Linked DNA regions of Homo sapiens: all the other regions are linked to region 3. The links come from fine-mapping of genetic effects on gene expression. A gene starts in region 3. Each other region holds a variant in brackets. All regions are shown on one strand. Distances are between the middles of the regions.

The links.
Region 1: its variant is fine-mapped to the expression of IFNGR1 in whole blood (TOPMed, PIP above 0.99). The same link has a PIP of 0.9 or more in blood mononuclear cells.
Region 2: its variant is fine-mapped to the expression of IFNGR1 in whole blood (TOPMed, PIP above 0.99). The same link has a PIP of 0.9 or more in T cells and esophagus mucosa.
Region 4: its variant is fine-mapped to the expression of IFNGR1 in whole blood (INTERVAL, PIP above 0.99).

Annotation. Positions count from the first base shown.
Region 1 is chr6:137,303,303-137,309,422 of GRCh38, reverse strand. LOC105378017 (a long non-coding RNA gene) reads left to right here. Exons shown (of 3, transcript XR_943043.1): 2 at 867-997; 3 at 3,522-3,651. Among named protein-coding and RNA genes, the nearest start is that of IFNGR1, 87 kb to the right of the region's middle. The variant C/T (reference allele first, on the strand shown) is at 2,686.
Region 2 is chr6:137,195,567-137,201,686 of GRCh38, reverse strand. It overlaps IFNGR1 (interferon gamma receptor 1), which reads left to right. Exons shown (of 7, transcript NM_000416.3): 6 at 679-806; 7 at 3,048-4,202. The coding sequence ends at 3,656. Among named protein-coding and RNA genes, the nearest start is that of IFNGR1, 21 kb to the left of the region's middle. The variant G/A (reference allele first, on the strand shown) is at 3,697.
Region 3 is chr6:137,216,338-137,222,457 of GRCh38, reverse strand. IFNGR1 (interferon gamma receptor 1) reads left to right here and starts at 3,073. Exons shown (of 7, transcript NM_000416.3): 1 at 3,073-3,215. The coding sequence starts at 3,131. RefSeq lists enhancers at 2,603-2,852, 2,703-3,433, 4,874-4,933 and silencers at 2,893-3,122, 3,163-3,382, 3,843-3,892.
Region 4 is chr6:137,237,555-137,243,674 of GRCh38, reverse strand. No RefSeq gene overlaps it. Among named protein-coding and RNA genes, the nearest start is that of IFNGR1, 21 kb to the right of the region's middle. The variant A/G (reference allele first, on the strand shown) is at 3,404.

The DNA of each region.
Region 1 (6,120 bases), 87 kb before region 3:
TTCCCTTGGCCATGAGACTAGTTAACCTCAAACAGGAACTGCTGCCTCAGCCTGAGCCCTGGAATGACATAAGATGTGGAGCCGAGCCAAAGTCAGGCAAGCCCGGCTAGACTCAGGCAAGCCCCACCCCTCCCAGTCAAACCTGCGGTTAACCTGCTGTCTTCATGTAACACAAACAAGAAATAAATGTTTGTTTGTTCGTTAAACAACCAAGATTTTAGAATTGGCTGTTGTCACAATAATTGCTGACTAATCAATCAGCAATTATCACAAGTGAAATGTGATAATGTGAGAAATGTGATAAATGACTGTGGTATAAATTAAATTGTGACATTAAGGTTGGGAGATTTGAGGGCTACCAAAGGAACAAAACCAAACAGGCCTTAGTAATTTATTAGAGGTAAAAGTGAAAAATATAGAGGAGCAAATCATGATATTGAGATTTCTGTCTCAGTAACTGGGGATGGGAAGCAAAGACATGTTAGAAAATTTTAAATGTTGAATTCTTTAGCAAGTACAAAGAAAATAATGGAGCATAAGTTAACACTGACAAATATTTTAATGCACATTTGTGTGATTATAATTACTAAAGTGACTATCATCCATCTCTGTTAAGCATCTAACAAGTGGAAATAAGCTTAATTTGCATGAAAAGAGGTTATTACACTCAAGAATGACACTTCTGACTAAAAAGGTTGTTAGATATTAGAATGCATTATCCATGGTATTCAAGGAATTTTCTTTTACAGGGAATATTTAGTTCCAGATTAGACATGGAATTTTCAAAATTAATTATGAAGGAAGATTTTTTTTCTAGCAGTGTGATTTTACACTACTCTTTCCTATTCTTCAATGACTTTGCTTAGGTTAATTTTATCTCTCTGGGCCTTCATTTCACCATCTGTAAAACCAAGAAATGGGACTGGATGGTTTTCAAAGCTCCTCACAGTTTGGAAACAGCGAAGCAGACCCCACCAGGACTGTACAACATTATGGAGTAAGCACATAGCCTGGATTATGAAAGGGGTCTTGGGAGGCTTAGGAAAGTTACCTGTATATACTGTCCTTTTTATATATCAATATTGATATTGCCAGAGATAGAGAGAAGACACTGTTTTTAAGCCAGGTTTTTTTTCTGATAAGGAAAAATGTTTAGTTAAAATCATTTTTGGCATAATTAAAATGTGGAAAAAAAAGGGTCAAGAAATGTAATTTTCTGTGACTTTTAAAATATGAATAGAAATCCCAAATATTTAATGCCTTAATCCTTGCTCTATGTGTCAACATAATTAGACTTTACAGTTTGACCTAAGTAGCTACACTTTGCCTTGGAAAAAATATTAGGATAAGCAATATCTATATATGCCTTTAGACCTAACGCAGCATAAAATATGATAAGTAATACTCATAATTATTGGATTTGACAAGTGGGCTGTTTTTACAGCTATGTGACTTCTAAATAACTAGATGCTTTAAGTACAGTTTAACGTTATTAAATGAGATTTTATTTACAAAATGTCTGGCACATAATAAACAATTAAAAAAACCATGTGTCATTAGCACTCTCAGGTCAGGCCTATTGTGGAGCATCTGTAAATGCAGGTGGTGCTAAGTCTGATCACAAAATAACTGAAATCACAGATTACCAATCAGTTAACAACACTTATTGGGTACAGAGTCCTGCAAATTCAGACACTGTTATGCAGAAAGGAAGGAAGTTCATGTTAGAAAATAGACTAAGCTATATGAGACCCAAGAGGAAGTTAGGCTATAAAATGGAAACACACACACACACACACACGACGGTTTCTGATCACGGAGTTCCTCAAATTTTAAAAATAAATAAGAACATGCTGACTTTTCATCTACCCGCCAAAGATAAAGCTAAAATACATAAAGACAGGTAGTCTAAAATGCAAGGGTCACAGGACAAAAGGTCTGTACCCATGAAGTATGGAATAATTTCTTAAACTACTAACCCAACCCAACTACCAATCATTGGTAATCTGTGATTTCAGTTATTTTGTGATCAGACTTAGCACCACCTGCATTTACAGACGCTCCACAATAGGCCGGGCCTGACAGTGCTAATGACACATTGTTTTTTTGAATGTTTATTATGCGCCAGACATTTTGTAAGCAACAGACCTCTTTATGCACTTGTAAGGGCAGAAAGATGTGACACCTTTCCTCATCCAGCACAGCTGACATTTCTATAACAAAAGACTGACTGGTTAGCAAGAGAAAAGCGTAACAAATTTATTTAATCAAAGTTTTATGTGACATGGGAAACTTCAGAGATGAAGACCTAAAGACCCTGGGAAAACCATCTATTTTTATGCTTAGGATCAATGAAGAATGGGTAGCCGTGTAGAAGTGTGATTGGACCAAAGGGTAATAGACTGAGGGCAGAACCCAGTGAGGTCTGACTGATCAGATTCTTTTTGGCCTCCCTGTGTAGCCTTCTTTCCTCCTGGATATGGGGCAGGACCCATCTGGAATGAGAATTTTCAAGGGAGAAGGGAGAGAGTGACCTTTATATGTTTTATGACTTGCTTTGGAAGAAAGAGGTTCTAGTTTCTGTGACCCACCTTGGGAAAGAGGAATTCTGGTTTCTATGACTCGCTTTGTGGTAGAAAGAGGGGCAACAGATAGGAGGACGGGAGAGGAGCAGAAGGACCGTGC[C/T]TCTCAGTCTTTCAATCTCCTTTAGTTCAAAGTACTCAGCATGCCAAGGTGCCTTACTTTGGGGTATCATATTGTCAGCCCCAATACCCTCATGACTATCAAAGAGTTTTACAGAAGACTTTTACTAGTCTCAGAATTAGTAGGGAACAATCTTTTTGAGCTAAAAGATGGCCAATATGTAACTTTGCACATAGTAGGCACTCAGATGTTTTGAATGATAAATTGTTAGGGTTAAAAACCATTAACTCTGTAAAGGAAAATTAAGTATTGCTGTATCTATTTGGCCCAACATATCCTCCATGAACTAATTAGAGTAATGACTATTTGCAGACATTTCCACACAGGTAATTATTTGTAAGCAAGTTAACATTTTTTTAGAGGGGAGGGAAAAATTCAAATAATAGTTATTTCAGATATTATTCTCAGTTTTATGATATGAAATACTGGTCTTAGTATATGTACCAATAATGTACATATATGTATAATAATACCAAAAACTTACAGTACATATATGTGCCAGATACCATTATAAGCACAACTATACATGTGTATACATTCATTTAATTCTCACAAAAACCCTATCAGGTAAGTCCTATTATCCCCATGTTACAAAAGAGAACACTGAGGCTTAGAAAGGTTAAGTAACTTACTTCGGATCACACAGCTAGTAAATGATAAAGACAGAATTCAGATGAGATCAGGCACATTCAGGGTGGTATGGCTGTAGACATAAAGCCAGAATTCAAACATGGGCAGTGTATCTTCATTATCTGTGCTCTTAACCCAAATGTTATGGTGTTCCTCCAGTAAACTAACTAAGATGTATTTCATTCCAGTATCTCTCACAAGACTGGAATTTCCACCAAGGCAAAGTGTAGCAACTCAAGCCACGTCTCATAAATCCCAGTGTTGCATATTCTCCTTAGTATATTTAAAATGACAGCTGATGATAAAGGAAAATCTGCTTTCAATAAATCTCAAGCTCAGGCTCAATTCAGTCTATCATATCACTTTGTAATATGAAAAATAAAATGGAAAATCCATATATACATTAATGATCACCTTATTTATTTGTTCCATCATCCAGACTTTGAATGGAAGTGGATGAAAAGTGGTCCAATGTTGGGAACAGGCCCCCCAAAACCTGGCCATAAACTGGCCCCAAAATTGCCCATAAACAAAATCTCTGCAGCACTGTGACATGTTCATGATGGCCATAACGCCCATGCTGGAAGGTTGTGGGTTTACCAGAATGAGGGCAAGGAACACCTGGCCCACCCAGGGCAGAAAATTGCTTAAAGGCATTCTTAATCCACAAACAATATTATGAGCGATCCTTAAGGACATGCTCCTGCTGCAGATAACTAGCCAAACCCAACCCTTTATTTTGGCCCATCCCTTCGTTTCCCATAAGGGATACTTTTAGTTAATCTAATATCTATAAAAACAATGCTAATGACTGGCTTGCTATTAATAAACACTGGGTAAATCTCTGTTCGGGGCTCTCAGTTCTGAAGGCTGTGAGACCCCTGATTTCCCACTTCACACCTCTATATTTCTGTGTATGTGTCTTTAATTCCTCTAGCGCCACTAGGTTAGGGTCTCCCCGACCGAACTGGTCCCGGCAGTCCAAAAGGAATTAAAACAGAATTTAATTAGACATTGTATTTATGTCCCTATGTTTTTCAACTTTCACATACTGTAAATAAAATTATAGTCCCCTGTGTAATCATTTCCATTAACACTGATTTCCTGAGTGATCTGTGTGATAGAAACTTGTCAAATTCATAATCAATATGGATCAAGCAGAAACTATTAGCTCTGTTCTACCTGGATAATGCCTAACTCCAAGTGTGTTGTTCAAAGACACCCTTATCATGATCCTGCTGCAGTTTGGAGTCTTGCACCAGTGTCCTGCCTGTCAAGAGCTGTGAAGACCTAAGCTATTTACCAAAAAGCAAGCTAACAATTTATCCTGCCACAATTTCATGGATAATTGCAAAAGCCACAAGACTCTGGATTAGACTCAAAGGACTTTCTTACTTCCAACACAACGGGTAGCATGTGTTTTCATATTCACATCAACCCCTTGTTCTGCTAAGTCTCACTGGAGTAATGAAGGTGGGCTGGGTCGATACATGAAGGAGGTTTGCATCATATTGTAACTAGTATAGCCAGTTTGCTAGCTTACTCTAAAAGTAACCCCTCCCTCCCTTTGTTCCTTGTTACATGTAACTGTTTGCTAGAGAATTCCAGTGGCCAATATTGAAATAATGTAGGCATAAAGTGGAGATAGCAGTTGCAATTTTCTCCCTTCTGAGAAAAAATTGGTGTTCAATTAATCCATAACCTGAACCCTGCTGAGATGATGCCAGTGAGGCCTCTGGGTGGTCCATTACTGAAAAAAGTCACCAGAAAATTACAAGCAAACTTGCACCCCGCACCATGCTGGTGCATAGTTTCCATGCCACCTTTCCCCTTTAAACCTCTTTAGCCAAACTGAGAATTTGAGATGGTTTTTTGAGAGTTGAGTCAGGCTGTTTCCTCAAGCTTCTAGCACTTGAAGAAACCTGCTTTCCTCCCACTAATCCTCACTTCTCATGTCTGGCTTTTCAAGCAGTGAGCAGCTGAACATGAATTTGGTTACAATAGCCAAGGAATCCCAAATTTAGGAAAACTTTATTTTTCTTTAATGGGCTACAAACAAACCCGCTCATTAAAGAAAATAATATATCTCTCTCTTTGCCCTAGAGAGAGATATTATTATACTGGACAGCAAACAAACCTGCCCTCTGTTGTGGAGAGAGATCTTACCTCTGTTTTCCAAGACTATTTACTATACAAACATCTTTGAAAAGAACAAGGGGTCTGTTAGTTCTGCTCACAAGATGTAAGAAATGAGAGAGATCTACCTTTCTCTCTGGAGAACTACCTTTCAACATACCTTTACTGCCGAGCCATGTGACTACAGCCATTTGTCTGCAACATACTGCCATAGCCAGGTGGCCCGACTGAGTCAAGGATCAGGATCAGTTTGCAGGAACTCTGATTCCCATCCAACAGTAAAATCCTTATCATAAACCTCCAAACCACAGAAGCCTGGAAATCTACAAATACTACTCATCCAGATGCTGACCAGCCCACTAAAAGTGAAAATAGACTTCTGCTGTAACTATTCAGAAGAGAGAAGGAATCTCTGAGGGTTTGTACTCACTCTTTTTCTCCTTCCCTTTAGCACCCCCACTCCTACCCAGAAAGAATACATATCATCTACTGTTCTGTTTAATCTATTTAGATCATGTCTTTGGCAATTTATGGACTTTGCAAAATTTGTCTCTACACTATCTTCCTTCTACTATCATCATTCCTCGTGCCCTCATCCCACAACCTTGTCCCCACACTAACATGGTACATTCATCAAGGCCAAAGAGTTTA
Region 2 (6,120 bases), 21 kb after region 3:
GTTTTGTTTTGTTTTGAAATGGAGTCTCGCTCTGTCACCAGGCTGGAGTCCAGTGGCACAATCTCAGCTCACTGCTACCTCCACTTCCCAGGTCCAAGCGATTCTCCTGCCTCAGCCTCCCACGTAGCTGGGACTACAGGCGCATGCCACCACACCCAGCTAATTTTTGTATTTTTAGTAGAGATGGGGTTTCACCATGTTGGCCAAGATTGTCTCGATCTCTTGACCTCGTGATCCGCCCACCTCGACTTCCCAAAGTGCTGGGATTACAGGCTTGAGCCACTGTGCCCAGCTGCCAGAATTTGTTTCTAAGGAGAGGTATTTTTAAAATTATTCTTTTGCATTTTTAACCGAAAGAAATGCATAACCCTGGAAACACACTGTATGTAGGGCTGTAAGGAAATTATTGTAGAAAAGCTATTTTAACTATGTTGTGTCATAGTAGAATAGTCCCAGAAAGTTCTAGAATTGCAGAGCTGGGAAGAACCATATTGCTATCTAAGACAGATACCTAATTTTTTACTCAGATTTCCTAACTTCTGCTTCCTTCAGTGTTCTTTAAAACTCTGGCCCTATTCACTAATTTGTAAATCTATTCAAGAATGGCACTAAGACTTTTTGATAGATAATAGCAGTATTCCATCTTAATTGTAACTTGTGATTTCTGCCTTTTTTAAGGTTCTCTTTGGATTCCAGTTGTTGCTGCTTTACTACTCTTTCTAGTGCTTAGCCTGGTATTCATCTGTTTTTATATTAAGAAAATTAATCCATTGAAGGAAAAAAGCATAATATTACCCAAGTCCTTGGTAATGTATTTAATTTTTTTATATACACTAAAAAGTTAACTTGAACCTTTTTTGATAGTTTCTTAAATTATGTTTTTAAAGTAGAATGATATTCAACAAGATGTCACCTGCCATCAATCAGTCAGTCTACCACACATGCAAAATCACATACTGTGTCTTTTGCTGTGCAGCAAGTATTTTGTTTTTTTTTTTATTCTCAGGGAAAAACACGGTGAGACAATTCTGTTAAAGATCTTAAAGTCTAGGGGGAAGAAAAGATAAATATACATTGGCTATATAACGTGTGATAGATTCAAAGATTTATACCTGAGCCCATGAGGACTTTGTCCAGCTTTGGGGTGGGGTTAGTCATGGCTTTTCCAGAGGCAATGCCTGAGCAGTCTTGAGGGACATACAGGAGTTTAGGCACTAGGGGACAGAATGTGCTGAGGTCCAGAGCCAAGAAAGCATGACTTTGAAAGCTCTGCAAATACAGAAACACTTCATTATGGTTGGAGTATGAAAGGAAAGTTGGCCAAAAATGAGACTAACGTAGGAGTTTGACGATTTTAATGTCCAACATTTCAAAGCCTTTGATGTAAAGAACATTTAAAGGTAACAGAATAGTATCTATTTGAGTCAAATATGACAGGAATAATATCTGTGATGCTCAAAGGGCACATTAAAATTTGCTATAAACTACCTTTAAAGTGGATAAGAACTCTCAACAGTTAGTAGTCAACTCACAAATGAATTATAATATTTTATTCTTACTAGTAATTAAGCACAAAGTAACCTTGCAGTATGCCATTTTACACGCGCTAGAGAAGAAAAAAGAAACCTGGATATCCAGTAGTACCAGCAGTAGCATAACGGGTAAATGCTGGTGAAAAGTAATCTAGCCCTGGTAAGAATAAAAGCACACAGTGGGTATTCAGTGTAATAGTGACGTAAACATACCATTTCTTTGATATGGTCACTCCACTCTTAAAAAATGTATTATAAGGAAATAATTTCATAAATAAAAAGATGTACAGGATATTTAACATGTTCCATAGCTAGTAAAAATTGGAAACATTTCCCCATCTATTAAATTATTTATCAGTATAAAGAAATAATATGAGCTACTAAAAATTATAATGATGAAGGCAAGTAATGAGAATATTACTTAAGTAGATGTGCCCACTTTGTAAACATAATGTGCGTACATGTGGAAGATAATTGTATTAGGATTCTCTAGAGGGACAGAACTAATGGAATATATATATAAAGATATATATATAATACCAAATAAACTCCCCTTTATATAAATCTATATTTTATATATTATATATTATATATATTTTATATGTTATATAATATATATTATATATTATATATAATATATTATAAATTATATATTTTATATAATATATTATAAATTATATATTTTATATAATATAAGTTATATATTTTATATATTATATTATAAATTATATGTTTATATAATATATTATAAATTATATATTTTATGTAATATAAATTATATTTTATATAATATATTATAAATTATAAATTATATATTATATATTATAAATTATATATTATATAATATATATTAATTATATTTTTCATATATATATATATAAAGGGGAGTTTATTTAGTATTATTTAGTATTAACTCACACGATCAGAGGTCCCACAATAGGCCATCTGCAGGCTGAGGAGCAAGGAGAGCCAGTCCAAGCTCCAAACTTGAAGAATTCAGAGTCCGATGTTCAAGGGCAGGAAGCATTCAGCATGGGAGAAAGATGTAGGCTGGGAGGCTAGGCCAGTCTCTCTTTTCACATTTTTCTGCCTGCTTACATTCTAGCCATGCTGGCAGCTGATTAGATTGTGCCCATTCGGGTTAAGGGCGGGTCTTCCTTTCCCAGCCCACTGACTCAAATGTTAATCTCCTTTGGCAGCACCCTCACAGACACACCCAGGATCAATACTTTGTATCCTTCAGTCCAATCAAGTTGACACTCAGTATTAACCATCACAGTAACGTACAAAAAGCAACATATATTAGTAAGATATCTGATGGCTTTTTAAAAATTCTAAAACTTTGTTTTTAATATTACTATGGGACCTTTCATTAAAAAGAAATGGCAACATCTGATTCACCCATTATCCTAAATGTGCCATTTGGTGGTCCATTACTTCAGACCTTTGTTTTTTTTGAGGGTAGGCACTTAAGCTTAACAATTTTTTATCTTTAATCAATTTTTCTCCCCATAGATCTCTGTGGTAAGAAGTGCTACTTTAGAGACAAAACCTGAATCAAAATATGTATCACTCATCACGTCATACCAGCCATTTTCCTTAGAAAAGGAGGTGGTCTGTGAAGAGCCGTTGTCTCCAGCAACAGTTCCAGGCATGCATACCGAAGACAATCCAGGAAAAGTGGAACATACAGAAGAACTTTCTAGTATAACAGAAGTGGTGACTACTGAAGAAAATATTCCTGACGTGGTCCCGGGCAGCCATCTGACTCCAATAGAGAGAGAGAGTTCTTCACCTTTAAGTAGTAACCAGTCTGAACCTGGCAGCATCGCTTTAAACTCGTATCACTCCAGAAATTGTTCTGAGAGTGATCACTCCAGAAATGGTTTTGATACTGATTCCAGCTGTCTGGAATCACATAGCTCCTTATCTGACTCAGAATTTCCCCCAAATAATAAAGGTGAAATAAAAACAGAAGGACAAGAGCTCATAACCGTAATAAAAGCCCCCACCTCCTTTGGTTATGATAAACCACATGTGCTAGTGGATCTACTTGTGGATGATAGCGGTAAAGAGTCCTTGATTGGTTATAGACCAACAGAAGATTCCAAAGAATTTTCATGAGATCAGCTAAGTTGCACCAACTTTGAAGTCTGATTTTCCT[G/A]GACAGTTTTCTGCTTTAATTTCATGAAAAGATTATGATCTCAGAAATTGTATCTTAGTTGGTATCAACCAAATGGAGTGACTTAGTGTACATGAAAGCGTAAAGAGGATGTGTGGCATTTTCACTTTTGGCTTGTAAAGTACAGACTTTTTTTTTTTTTTAAACAAAAAAAGCATTGTAACTTATGAACCTTTACATCCAGATAGGTTACCAGTAACGGAACAGTATCCAGTACTCCTGGTTCCTAGGTGAGCAGGTGATGCCCCAGGGACCTTTGTAGCCACTTCACTTTTTTTCTTTTCTCTGCCTTGGTATAGCATATGTTTTTGTAAGTTTATGCATACAGTAATTTTAAGTAATTTCAGAAGAAATTCTGCAAGCTTTTCAAAATTGGACTTAAAATCTAATTCAAACTAATAGAATTAATGGAATATGTAAATAGAAACGTGTATATTTTTTATGAAACATTACAGTTAGAGATTTTTAAATAAAGAATTTTAAAACTCGTTTTTGTATTCATTTATTCAAGCACTTAGGCAGTCTTTCATAGTTAAGCAGAATATTTTTATATCCACTGCTTGTTTCCATGCATTAATGCTATAGGATTATTTGCTAATTGTTCATATTTAATATTTAAAACAACCCTAAAAATAATATTTTTAAATGGTCCTTATAGGTCTATATTTCAGTGCTTAACACCCAGTGTGCAGAACACTGTTCTAAGTGGTTTGAGAAGAAAAGATTTAGCTGTAGAGCATGTGGATTGAGGAATCTAGCATAAAGGTGGTGGGCAGAGCCATGGAAATGGATGGAACCTTGAGAATTACATGGTGTGGAAAGAATCCCCAGTGAGAGGCAAACCAAGAGTTAATATATATGTTACCCAAGGATTTCTTGGAATTACTAAGAGGATAGAAATATTCAGAAATTAATATGAATCTGTGAATTAATGGACCAAAAAAAATGAAATACAATTTACATGAGTAGCAAATCACATTTCTTTGGTTTCTGGAAAGATATTTCTCTTCACTTAAAAATGCAAATTACAAATGAGATACTATCAGTGAAAAAAGTAGTGGTGTGGTTTGCAGTGGAACTGGTATAGTCACTGATTTTAGGGTAATGTCTTGTAAATTGCTTTTCAAACTGATACCCCATACATATCACATTCCACAAAAGTAATATCCTTCAACAGACTTTGATCTCTCTTGTGGGAAAATTACAAAAAAAAAAAAAAAACTACATGAACAATGCACACATTAGAATGGGAAAAGCAAAAATATGAAAATAATTGAAATAGCCAAGGAAGAGGTAATACTTACTACCCTCCAAAATGATTATACCAATGTGTACTCCCATCAAATGTGAATGAAGTACCTGTTTTTACACCCTAGCTAATTGACTGAAATAAGTCTTTAATCTCGGTAAAACACTTTACACATTAAATGCATTTGCATTTCTTTAGTAAATTTGAGCATGTTTTTATATCTTATTTATAGTTTCATGCCAACTCATCTTGTTCTTTGTCCATTTTTTTATGGGCTGTTTATATCTTTCTTACTACCCTTTATCTGCCCTGAGTTACAGATTTATTTTATAATTTCCTGCCTTTTGACTTACCACACAGATGTTTAAGTTGTTTATAAAGTCAAATTTATTTATTTCCTTCTATTTTTAAAAAGCCCTTCCCCTTTCCCCAAAAGATAGAAGTTTTCACTCATGTTTTCTTCTGGTCTTTGGTGATGATTGTTTTACATTTAATTCTTCTATCCATCTAGATTTTTTTCCTTTGAGGACAGAGATAGAGATCCAGCTTTATTTTTTTGTTTTAGTTTCCTGTGGCTGCCGTAATAAATTACCACAAACTTGGGTGGCTTAAAACAACAGAAATTTGTTATCTCACAGTTCAGAGGCTAGAGGTCTGAAATCAAGGTTTCAATAGGGCCAGATTCTATCTGAAAGCTCTAGGGGTGGAGGGCCCCTTCCTAGTTTCTAGTGATTGTTGTCAATCCTTGATATTCTCTGACTTATGGCTGCATTATTCCAATTTCTGCCTCTTGTCACCTGGCATTCTTCTCTGTATGTCTGTGTCCAGATCTTTATAAGGACACCAGTCAATTGGATTGATTAGTCCCACTCTAATCCAGTATGACCTCCTCTTAACTTGATTACATCTGTAAAGACACTTTCCAGTTAAGATCACATTCATAGGTACCAGGGGTTAGGACTTCAACACATCTTTTTGAGGATACAACTCAACTCATATATTTCCCTTAACAAATTAGTTATCCCAAATACTATTCATTAAATTATCTAACTTTTCTATGCTGATTTCAAATGTCACATTTATCACATGCCAAATTCTCAGCACTCCTGGAACAGTTTTGTTGTTCAGTCTTTTCCCGTCTATGTATCACACTTTTA
Region 3 (6,120 bases):
ATACACTTGGCTTTGGAATGATCTACGCTCCACCCCAATTTGTTTTCTTCATTTTAAAAACTAATCTGAGGCTCTAGTGGGGACCAACGTATACTTGGATATTCCCCAGCCATTAGGCATTGGAAATTTATCAAGGAAAGCTGGCACCGCTCATTTGTTTCTGTGTTAGCTGTATGAGATTTTTATATGGGATTTTAAAATACAGTTTATTGCTCTTCTTCCTACCTCTCTTATTAGCCGGTGGCCACCCCCATCTTTTAACTTTATTCAGGCTAATTTTACCTTATCCTTCAGGTCACAACATAATGGTAACTTCCTTAAAAAAGAATTTCCCTAAATCCAGACACAGTGGCTCACACCTGTAATCCCAGCATTTTGGGAGCCTGAGGCAGGAGAATCATTTGAGCCCAGGAGTTTGAGACCAGCCTGAGCAACACAGCAAGACCCCAGCTCTATAAAAAATTTAAAAACTAGCCGGGCATAAGGCCAGGCGAGGTGGCTCACTCCTGTAATCCCAGCACTTTGGGAGGCCAAGGTGGGCGGATTGCTTGAGCTCAGGAGTTTGAGATCAGCCTGGGCAACATGGTGAAACCCCATCTCCACAAAAGACACAAAAAAATGCCTGTGGTCCCAGCTACTTGGGAGGCTGAGGTGGAAGGATGGCTTGCGCCCGGGAGGTGGAGGTTGCAGTCAGCTGAGATTGTGCCACTGTACCTCAGCTAGGTGATACAGTCAGACCCTGTCTCAAAAAAAAAAAAAAAAATTAGCCAGGCATGGTGGTGTACACCTGTAGTCCCAGCTATTTGGGAGGCTGGGGCAAGAGGATCATTTGGGCCCAGGAGTTTGAGGCTGCAGTAAGCTATGATCATGCCTCTGCACTGCAGCCTAGACGACAGAGTGAGACCCTGTCTCAAAAGAAAGAAAAAAGAAAAGAAAGACTTTCTTTAAAATGTAGACTAAGTTAAATTCCTGTTTATACTCCTTTAATCTCTTCCCATTGCTCTCCTTGGGAATGATGATCACGATTTCAGTACTTGTGTAATTCCTTGTTTAACAGCTATCTCCCTCAGTAGACAGTAAGCTCCGTGAGGGCAGGGGCCATGTCTGTCTTGCTCAGGTCTTTATCTCTGTGCCTGGTCATGTCAGTCACAGACAGTATCACTTGATAATATTCACCCAATTAATAAATATATTTAGTCTCCAAATGACTAACTAGCAAAGTCTTCAGAAGGATACGTAGGGTGGTGGGTGCTGTGATTGTGAAACTTGCCCAGATCCCTCTCAGGAACAGAAGACTGGGTTCTGTCCCCTTCCTGATGCTAGGAGGGCTGCCAGTAGACACCCTCAACCGTCAGCGTTCCTCTGGGGAATGCCTCCATGAAAGAAATGGACAGCCCCAAAATCATGACAGTTGGTATTCAATGACTAATCAGTGCTGGGCTTTAAGACCCAGCCCCTCATACCAACTCAAGACACCTTTACAAGGCCATCCCAACTCCAGAGCGCCCCTTGGGAGCCTTTACTGGGATGGCATCACAGATCAACTTCTTCCTCCGCTCTGCTTCCTCCACCTCCCCTTCACAGACGTTTATTCCAAGAGCACTCCCTAATCAATCAATGCCTTATACCTTAATCTCGACCTCAGAGTTTACTGCCAGGGTAACCCAGCCTGTGACAAGTACCACAAAAATGTTTACAAACTGGATATCATATTTTGTCCTACTCCATAGACGCCTAAACGGTAAAGATCAGTTATTTATCCTTGCATCCTTACAACGACTAGAAGGTGTCTTTCATATAGTGGACATCAGAAACACATCAAAGGAAATATTCTCCCTAAACTTAGTCTAGATTGAGCTAAATTCTTCTGATTCAAAGTGTGGTCCTGTTGAAAGGGGCACCAGCATCCCCTGTGCATTTTGTCCGAAATACAAAATCTCAAGACCCAACCTGAATTAGAACTACTGAATCCAAATCTGCATTTTATCAAGATCCCCAGATGGTTCACATGTATGTTGAAGTTTGAGAAGTACTGAGCTAAGAGATTTATTAATACAAGTAAAATGATCTGGCTGATAATACCTCTAGTTTATATAGTGTCTTTATAAGGATTTTCCCTCTTTAAAAATTTTCCTTAACACTAGTAATCATGCAGTCTTTCACTCAACAAATACTAATTGAGTGCCAAGTAAAGATGTCAGCTCTACGGAGCTTACATTTTAGAAGGAGAAGAAAACAAATATCAAGGTGTATATTATAGTGTACAGCAAGGTGAAAAGTGCCATGAAAAAACAGTAGGGCGGGGTAAGGAGGAGGAGAAGGTGTGTTGCAATTTAAAATTTTTAACAAAAGTTCATGATACTCAGAGAATTGAAACAGGTGAGATCATTAGACATTCGCATGTTTGAGCACAAGCGCTGAAGGACTTAGCAATGTGGCTGCAGTGGAATAGGAGAGATGCAAAATAACAGACAAACCCAGAGAGGTAAGAGAGCAGACCTCTTCATGAGAGGCTGCCTGATAAACTGATTTGACACTGAATTGCTGAGAAGGTAATGCAAATAGTTTTTTTCTCCAAGAACAAAGTAGTTCTTGGTCAAGCCGATTTGATTTGGGCTGTGGGAATCTGCACAAACCATTTCACTAGCTAAGTCTCAGGTTCCTCAAATGAAAAAGCAGGGACTGGAAATGGCTTTTGAAGTCTCATTCTCTTCTAAAAATGTCAGGCTCCAAGACAACCAGGTGAAGTCCAAGAGTTAGTAAAATAAGGATTGTGGCTCGGCTGTGGCCTAATGCAAACTTGCACAACCCCAGGAAACCGAAAAAAACTGGAAGAAGAATTGCAGAATGGGGTGCCAGGTTGAAAGACCTTAACCTTTGCACTCAAATTCCTCCCACACCCAGAAGTCCAGGTCCCGACCGCACGACGCCGTGCTCACTGCTGGGTGCTGCGCCTGAGTCCGCCTCCTGCGGCTTCCCGGACTTGACCCCGCCCACGCCCTGGTCCCGCCTCCTGCCGACGCCGGCACAGACCCCGGTGACGGAAGTGACGTAAGGCCGGGGCTGGAGGGCAGTGCTGGGCTGGTCCCGCAGGCGCTCGGGGTTGGAGCCAGCGACCGTCGGTAGCAGCATGGCTCTCCTCTTTCTCCTACCCCTTGTCATGCAGGGTGTGAGCAGGGCTGAGATGGGCACCGCGGATCTGGGGCCGTCCTCAGGTACCGTCGTTCGCGGCAGGGCTGCGGCCGGGTCGGGACGAGAGGGAGGGAGGGATCCGCCCCAGCCGGGAAGCCCCGCCCCGCTTCTCCGAGGTCGCCCTAGCCCGGGACCCCTGCGTCGGGCCCTGAGCGGGCGACGGGGACGCGAGGTGGGGTCGCGAGACTGGGGCTCCGTGGTTTGAACTCGTCGGTTGCCTTTCTCCTGCCTCTTCCCTGGTTGCCGCCACAACAAATCACGCCGCTTGTTTTTCCGACTCTTGTAATCCACTTTTAAATACGATTATGCGCTGCAGAAGGACGTTGCTGGTCAATGTGGGACAGCGTGGTCTCAAAGATTATAATATCGTCTTCTTACTGTACCTTTTTTTATGGTTAGATACGCAGATACTCACTAGTATGCTACGGTTGCCTGCAGTGTTCAGTGCAGTGACAGGCTGTACAGGTTCATGACCTAAGAGCAGTAGGCTGTGTCATCTGGGTTTGTCTGGGTTTCTACTGCCCGAAGAAATTGCCTAAGGGGACATTTCTCCATTTCTCAGAACGGATCTCCATCGTTAAGTGACGCATGACTGTGAGTGTCCTGATCAGCATGTGGCATCGTGGTCTCAGTTCGTGGCTTAAATACTTCTTTCTTAGCGGGGGTGGGGGGGGGGACTCAAAGTGCTTAGGGTAGGAAAGTATGCATTATGTCGCCAGCTGAGAAGTAAGTGGCAGCTGAGAAGTAAGTGGCAGTCCGTCTTAGGTCTCAGTCTGGAAGTGGTGGATTGCCGGCACTCACTAGCAGATTTGGCAGTAGGTCTCTTCGTACGGGTTTGTTCTTCGGAGCATTTTATTTCCACCTGCTTATTGACATTTCCTAGAAAACAAATGTTGAGGGTGGCTTTTCTGAAGTGCAGAGTAATTGTGATTACGAGCTCCAGAGAAAACAGTAAACCTTTTCAATTCAGTTTTCTTTTTTTTATTATGATTTATGATTCATAGGGACTTTGAAAGGTCCACGTTTTGGTTCTGTGTTCACAACAATCTTCTGGAGTAGGCGTTATTTGTCTCTCTCTTTATGGACGAGAAATTGAGTTACGGAGAGGCCTGCCCAACTGGCAGAGAGGTCATAGCCACTCAGTGGGGAGCTGCTCAATTTGGCTCCAGAGTCCAAGTTCTTAACTGCTCTTCTAGGCTCTAGTCAGTCATCCACATGGGCAGTTGCAGTACTTTGCGGTAAGAGCTTGCACTTAGGCACAGACTAGTGGAAAGCAAGGCGGGGTGCTTGTCTCTTTTAGGGAAGTCAGTGAAGACTTCACAAAGGTGACCCCAGTGTTGGAACCAGAGGTGCAGAGACTGAGGTGCAGAGGTGTGATAGCATGTTGAATTCGTGGAATATTAAGCGTTCTATTGTAAAGTGTGTGTGAGAGCTTACAAGGGGAGGAGATAGGTTAGGTGGAGAAGTAGGAACCAAATAATGAATTGCCATATTATGTGTACCAGCAAGAAACCTAGCTTTATTAACTTAAGCAAAAAGAGGAATTTATTGTCTCAGAAAAACCAGAGTTAAACAGAAAATTATAGATGCCAGCTGGGTCTCAAGAGGCTAGAACCAGGAACCCAAACTGCTAGGACTCTCCATTTCTTATTTCTGTCTGGGTATTGACAGCTTTCCACACTTGGCAGGAATCATGGATGCTGACAGCTTCTGAGTTTTGACATCTTGCAGCCTCCTCCATTCTAACAAAATGCCAGGGAAAGGCTCTGATTTGCCCAGCTAGGTTCAGGTGCCAGCTTGCATGGGAAGGACATTCTCGTAGAGGGTTGGGTTGGGTTACCAGAAGAAGCGGAATGGCGTGCCTGAAGTACAGGTGTTGAGCCAACAAAATAATACACCCACTATGCCTTGCTGAAGTCAGTCATTATTTACTAATGCTGACATCATTGGATTATCAATTACAAAGGGAAATGATTTTATGCAGGATCAGACATGCCATTTAGAAAGACCAGTCATCTTATAAAATAGTTTGAGGGTAAACACAAGGCCCATTAGGAGGCTGCTGCTTAAGTTGGAGTCGATAAGTAGTTTAAGTGGAGAAGAGGACAGTTAGCAGAACATTTAGAAGGAAGAGTTAGTAGGCCTCTGACTGGATGTCAGCAGAGAAAGAGGATAACGCTAGCGCAGGCATAGCGTTAAAGCAAGTGCCAGGCCCTTCCTTCTGAATACGGGGCCCTATGAGTGCACCGTGTGACCCCTGTGAGTGCACAATTTGCACGTCCTTGTAGCTTGCTCTGGGAGGAGGATTGCCTGTCTGCCTCCCGTGGGAAGATCAACTGCAGCCTTCTATATTCTGCAGAAACTTTTGAATTTGTCTCTGTACCTCTCGTTCTAAAACTGGGGTCACTTTTGTGAAGCCTTTCCTGACTCCCCTAGAAGAGACAAGCACCCCGGCCTTGCTTTTCATTAGTTTCAGTGAGCCCTCTTTTTAAAGTGCATTTCTAACACATTTCTCTAGATTTTTCAGTGCATTTCTCTAGATTTTGTTGTGTTCCCTGTTCTTTTAAAGTTAATTTAAAACACAAAATCTCCAAAGTAGGAAGAAACCAACAATGCTCTGGCTCTTGCTTAGCTTCCCAGCCTTATTCTTACTGTTGCTGGGCTTGACTCTATAGTTGAAGTTCATCTTAGATGAGAGGACCTGGTAAGAACAGGGAAGCAGACAAGTGAATATGGTGATATAGTCAGTCTCCAGGAAATCCAGGTGTTTAGGAATGTATTGTGTTACATTCATGGGCTTTCATTAATACTTCTTAAGTGAAAATAAAATCTGTGTGTGCCACTTAATCAGTAGTATTTCACTCTTCATGCACTTTTACACATAAAAGTAGTATATATTTTTAAGTGAATCAGGGTGTGCCACTGGCT
Region 4 (6,120 bases), 21 kb before region 3:
TAGTGTAGAGGGCTAAGAGCAGAGACTTTGGGGTTAGAGTAGAGATTGGAATCTCATAAGTTTACAGACCTGGTGCACGTTGTTTAAGTTCTCAAAGTCTTAAATTTTCACTTCTTCAAAATTGACTTAGATATACTTATTTAATGGTGTTCTAAGTAACATACAATAGGTAGAATATAGCACTTGATAGTACTCAAAAATAGTAGCCATTATTTTTTAGTGAGGTAGCGTCCAAGTTTCTCAAATCAAGTAGGGAAACACACATAGGCAGATGTGTTCAATACAATGCCGTAAGTGGGGAGAAATCGATAGGTAACCAGGGTGCAATGAGAACAGGAAGAGTGGAGATAGTGGGGAGCATCTAGCCCAACCTGGTGATGCTGTTAACAGAACTATATCCAGAAAGGTAAACATAAATGTGCTCATGGACCCAGACATAATCAAGGAGGGAGCTGGGACTGGGATCCAGAACTTCCAACCCTTGTATCAATTTATTTTTGTAACAAAATGTTATATTTGTATGAGATATAAAATAAATACAGATTACTTATTTTTCCTACTCAGAATTCTTATACAAAAGATAAGACATAACCATCACATAATTACACCTTTCAGGGAGTAATAGCTAAAATATAAGATTTTCTTGTTTGAAACTCTTATCTCTCATTCACATCTTTTAAACACAATACCACACAGTAGGACCCTTAATAGTTACATGAGCTACAACGGAAGACAAAAACACTAATTAACTCTTTGAACAAAGATTTCAATGTCTTTTATATACCAGGTACTATTCTAGGTGCTAAGCGTACATAAATTAATAAAAACACAAAAAATTATAGGGAGAGACAGTAATAAATAAGTAAAATATATAGTACTGTCTGCTTTTATGTTATTAATGGTAAAATGGGCCTGTATAGTGATAGCATGTATTTCTCTACTTCCAAATCTTACTGCTTAAAACATAATTGTTTAAATATATATTTTAAAGTTAGAGTTTGTCACAACTGTGTTTTCTGCAGATCCACCCTCTGAGAGAGGCGACTGTAAAGGGACTCTGTAGTATACGTTAGGGAAATAATAAAGCTGGAGCTATGGTTGAACAAAGAGAGAGGATTTTCTAATTAGTTAAACTATATATATATTAGTTTTAACAGGGAAACTGTAAAGCCTTTCATAGGCAGATACAATTGTCTCTTTTACTTCCATGTGGCAGGAATAATAAAGAAATTCCAATTTTCAAATTTCAAAGGGAATGAGACCCTCCGGGAATTACCTTAGAACTAAGACTTGAGGAAGCCTTAGAAAAAGTGGCAAGAATTTTAATATTCAAGAATCTGAAAGTAGCAAGAAAAATATTAGGAATTCTGACCTCATGAATTGGGTAGAATCCTCAAAGCCCTGAATCTGTGCATAGCATGGGAGAATTTGGGGCAAGACGTATTGCGATTTAGAGTAAAGCTAAACAAGTATTTTTCTAAGGAAGAAATGAAGAATGAATGGAGCACCAGTATCTGTGAAATAGGGATGAGAATGGTAATTATATTTAAGTTTTTGTATTTCTTTGATTCTTGTTCTAATTATATTTTTCAATCACAATCCCTATGCTTAAAGCTTTATGATTTCCTTAGAAGCACATGACAAAAAAAAAAAAAAAAAAAAAGGCAGAGCTCTTATCTGAATCTTATCTCTAATAAGGCCAGTGGTGACTCCTCATCTGGACTGTGAACAAAGGCAAAGTTGATTCTGGTATGTCCTCATTTCAACACACAGGTATTCCCAGCACAGAGCTGGTACATTCCATTTTGCTTTAATCTTTTTTTTTTTCTATTTTGCTCCCTTGTGGGATCCAACGAGCTGGTAAATTCTAGCAAACACAGAGCAATAGCAATTGTCACAGCCAGTCAGGATAATCTACAAGCAAAAAGAACTTCCAGGAAGCCAACATAATTCTCTATAAAAACCCTCAAATATTTGACTAATGTACCATAGACACTGTACAAATAAGCACAGTCCCGCATTGCTGTCTCTGGCTAGATACAGAACTCTTTCATTGCCAGTTAGCAATGAACACTAAAAGTGAATATAACGCAATGTGTGTCCCACATCCTGATCAGCCATTTCTAATAGGCAGTACAGGAGTACTAAGAGAAAGACTAGGTTAAGGAACATTCTTTTCTGGTTTTGAAAAATCATAACCAGAAAAGCAACTCATGTCCTAGGGATAATGAGTCAATAGTAAAGACTTTTTCAGTGGCAGATAGAACATTTATTTGGGGCATCTTTCCAAAATCTAAAGTTCATATCTTCTGGAATGTCAAAGTTAATGGAACTTGAATAAGAGCCTTTGTCGCCTCTCTTTCTTGATAACTATGGCTGATGTTTTTGAAAAGTTATCCCTAAATATATCCTTGTATAAAATAATAGAGAATAAAGCCATTATCCAGTTTTTGATAAAGAAACATCTAGTATAAGGGTTAAAGGGTTCACTTTAGAGACAAAGTGAAGGAAATAAGTCATGTTGCATACGCTAGTCTCTATAATAAGAACAGGCTGCCAATCTGAAGCATTTCTATTCGAAACAAAAAGTACAGCTGAACAACAATTCAGAAACATGCCAGTTTTTCTCAATACCCAGAAATTTCTGTTTGAAACCATACTTTAAGTTATTCAAAAATGTTGTGCTGGCCGGATGCGGTGGCTTACGCCTGTAGTCCCAGCATTTTGGGAGGCCGAGGCGAGCGGATCACCTGAGGTCAGGAGCTAAGAGACCAGCCTGGTCAACATGATGAAACCCCACCTCTACTAAAAATACAAAAATTAGCTGGGTGTGGGGGAACGTGCCTGTAATCCCAGCTACTCGGGAGGCTGAAGCAGGAGAATGGCTTGACCTGGGAGGCGGAGGTTGCACTGAGCTGAGATCGCGCCATTGCACTCCAGCCTGGGTAGTAGAGTAAGACTCTGCCTCAATTAAAAAAAAAAATTTTGTACTCCAGCTGGGCTCAGTGGCTCATCCCTGTAATCCCAACATTCTGGGAGGCCGAGGTGGGAGGATCATTTGAGGCTAGGGGTTCAAGACCAGCCTGGGCAACAAAGTGAGATCCACTCTCTACCAAATTTTTTTTTTTTTAATTAGCCAGGCATGGTGATGCATGCCTGTAGAAGCAGTTACTCAAGAGGCTGAGGCAGGAGGATTGCTAGCCAGGCATGGTGATGCATGCCTATAGTTACTCAAGAGGCAGAAGCAGGAGGATTACTTGAGCCCAGAAATTTGAGCCTGCAGCAAGCCATGATTGCACCACTGCACTCCAGCCTGGGCAGCAGAAGGTGACTCTGTCTCAAAAAAGAAAAAAAAAGCGTTCCTTGGAACAACAGAGAAACTTTCTTGTAATGTCAGCATAAA[A/G]TAAAGCACATGGTGTAACTTCCCCTCAACCAAACCACAAACAATTACAGCATAAACATCCATGTCTTTATAAAGCAACAACTAAAAATGTTACATTCAAAGTTAGGACTATGGAAAAAGGGACAATTTTTTAAATGCAGCTTGATGTATTTTATGGTATGGAATATCTCTTCCTGTAAGTTATCAAAATATGAAATACCATTTATTTATGTGCAAGCTGCTATACTGCATTACATGGGTTAGCTCATTCATTCTTCCCAAAATCCTGTGGAAAAATTATTATTATTATCATCCACCTTTTACAAGTGAGGAAAATAAGGCATAGAGAATCAGTTTCATGGCTTATAAATGAATAAGCCAAAATTCAAAACCATGGCTGTCTGACTCCAGAATTAAAGCTCTATTTTTTTTTTTTTTTAGCAAATTGTCTTTCCCTATAGCTATGGATATTTCCAAAAGAAGAGGCTTGAAGGCCTTTGCTCTTTTCTATATATATTCTTTCATTTATTTTACCTATTGCTTTTAAAAACACTTCCCCAAAATGAGTATGTTAGAATTAGAACATTGCCTACCTGTAAGACTTTATGACTGGTGCTGTTTGACACATCCTACACTACTCCTCCATGTATGCATCATGTATCCTTAATTTCTTCCTCTCTCTTTTTTTTTCTTTTGAGGTCTCGCTCTGTCGCCTAGGCTAGGGTGCAGTGGCACGATCTCAGCTCACTGCTGCAGCCTCTGCCTCCTGAGCTCAAGTGATCCTCTCATCTCAGCCTCCAAAATAGCTGGAACTACAGGCCCATGCCCAGCTATTTTTTGTAGAGATGGGGTTTCACCATGTTGCCCAGGCTGGTCTCGAACTCCTGAGCTCAAGTGATATGCCTGCCTTGGCCTCCTAAAGTGCTGTGATTACAGGCATGAGCCATATATCCTTAACTTCTGAGAATTTTTATTTTGAATACCATGCTCTCAATTCATAACAGGTAGTATATAAGTTTAGGTAGGCATTTAATTTATTTTGTCGTCAGATTTTTTAATCCTAGAAATAAGTACATTTAAATGCTCTCTGATCTACCCTGTACAATTCCATGAGTCTACAAATAGGCCTAAATGCCATTATATTATCTATTATGCCCCAAACAGCTCCTTCCCAATGTCCCTGTTTATCAACGGATATTTAAGCAGACTCCTGGTGGAAACCAGGAAATGAATTGCACGCATATCTAGGTAAAAGCAATTCAAGCAGAGGAACAGAATGTGAGGTTGGAGCCTGACTGGTATGTTCAAGAAACCTACAAAAGGCCTTATAAATGGAGCAGAGAAAGCAAAAGAAAAAGTGGCACAAGACGAGGTGTGAGCAAGGCTAGCTGTGCAGATGTGCAGTCACAGAAGGCCATGGGCATAGAAGGGCACTGCACTTTGTTTAATGCTCTGTCATCAGCACCTTGAATTACTTCATAATATTTTTAATAAGAAGCCCCACATTTCATTTGGTACTAGGAAATGCAAATTATGTAGCCAGTCCTGGGTTAGAGCAGTAGCAAGAAGTCAATTGCTGGAGAATCCTTTAGCCATTGACTATTGTAAGGACTTTAACTCTGAATAAGATAAGAAACCATTGAAGGATTCTGAACAGCAGAATGATGAGCTTAGAGTGTTTTTTCTTTTAAATTACTCTGGCTCCTGCCATTAGGATGGATCTAAGAGGACAAGAGTAAAAACAGAGAGTTTCAGCAAGAATCCAGTTAGGAGATAATGATGATTTGGTCCACTACGGTGCAGTAGAATTGGAAAGAAATGGTCAGATTCCAGGCATATTTTGTAGGTGAAGCCAGAAACATACGCTGATGGAGATAATGTGGGGCAGAAAAGAAAGAGGGACATCAAAGGTGATCTCAAGGTTTTGCGCCTGAGCATTTGGAAGAAGAGAGGAAGACTGAAAGAAGCAGGCTTGGGGTTATGGAGATCCAGAGTTTGGTCGTGGATATGTTGAAGTTTGAGATGTTTATTAGACACTCAAGGGGAAGTGTTGAGTAGCTAGGTAAATATGCAAGTCTGGGGTCTAAGAAAAAGGTTTGGGCTAGAGATTTAAATATTCGGATGTGGAGAAGATGAGGAGGAACCAGCAAAGGAGAATAAGGAGGAATCAGCAAAGGAGAATGAGAAAGAGCAGCCAGTAAAACAAAGGAATCAAGAGGAAGTATAACAGTACCCTAAGATTCAGAGAGGAAAGAAGAAGGGACCTTCTTGTGTGTCAGTTAGCCTATGTCAATATGCTGATAGGTCAAGTAAAATGCAGCTGGGGAAGTGCATGACCATTGGATTTAGCAAGACAGGGACTTGAAAAATGTTTCACTGTACTGTTGGGATCCTTCTCCTTATTGTCTAAATGTGAAACTTCAAGCATGTCAACTCCTTATTTACCCTCATGTCAATAATATTCAGCTACTAATTTTGATAATCCTTTTATCATTTCCACCCTCTTTATACATTTTTTTTTATTTTATCACACCCAGCCTTTACCAACATTACAATCTAGTTCAGGCCCCTGTTATTTCAGGACTGGATTCCTGAGTACTGCCCCAGGCTGTCTCCTAGTTTAAGCTCACCAGCAGCCCATCTTGCTTAGTCATCTGGGAACAAAGCTTTCCTTGGGAATTTCCCAGGTTCTTCTGCTCTTAAAAGAAACATACCAATGGCAGGCTTCCCTCACCCAC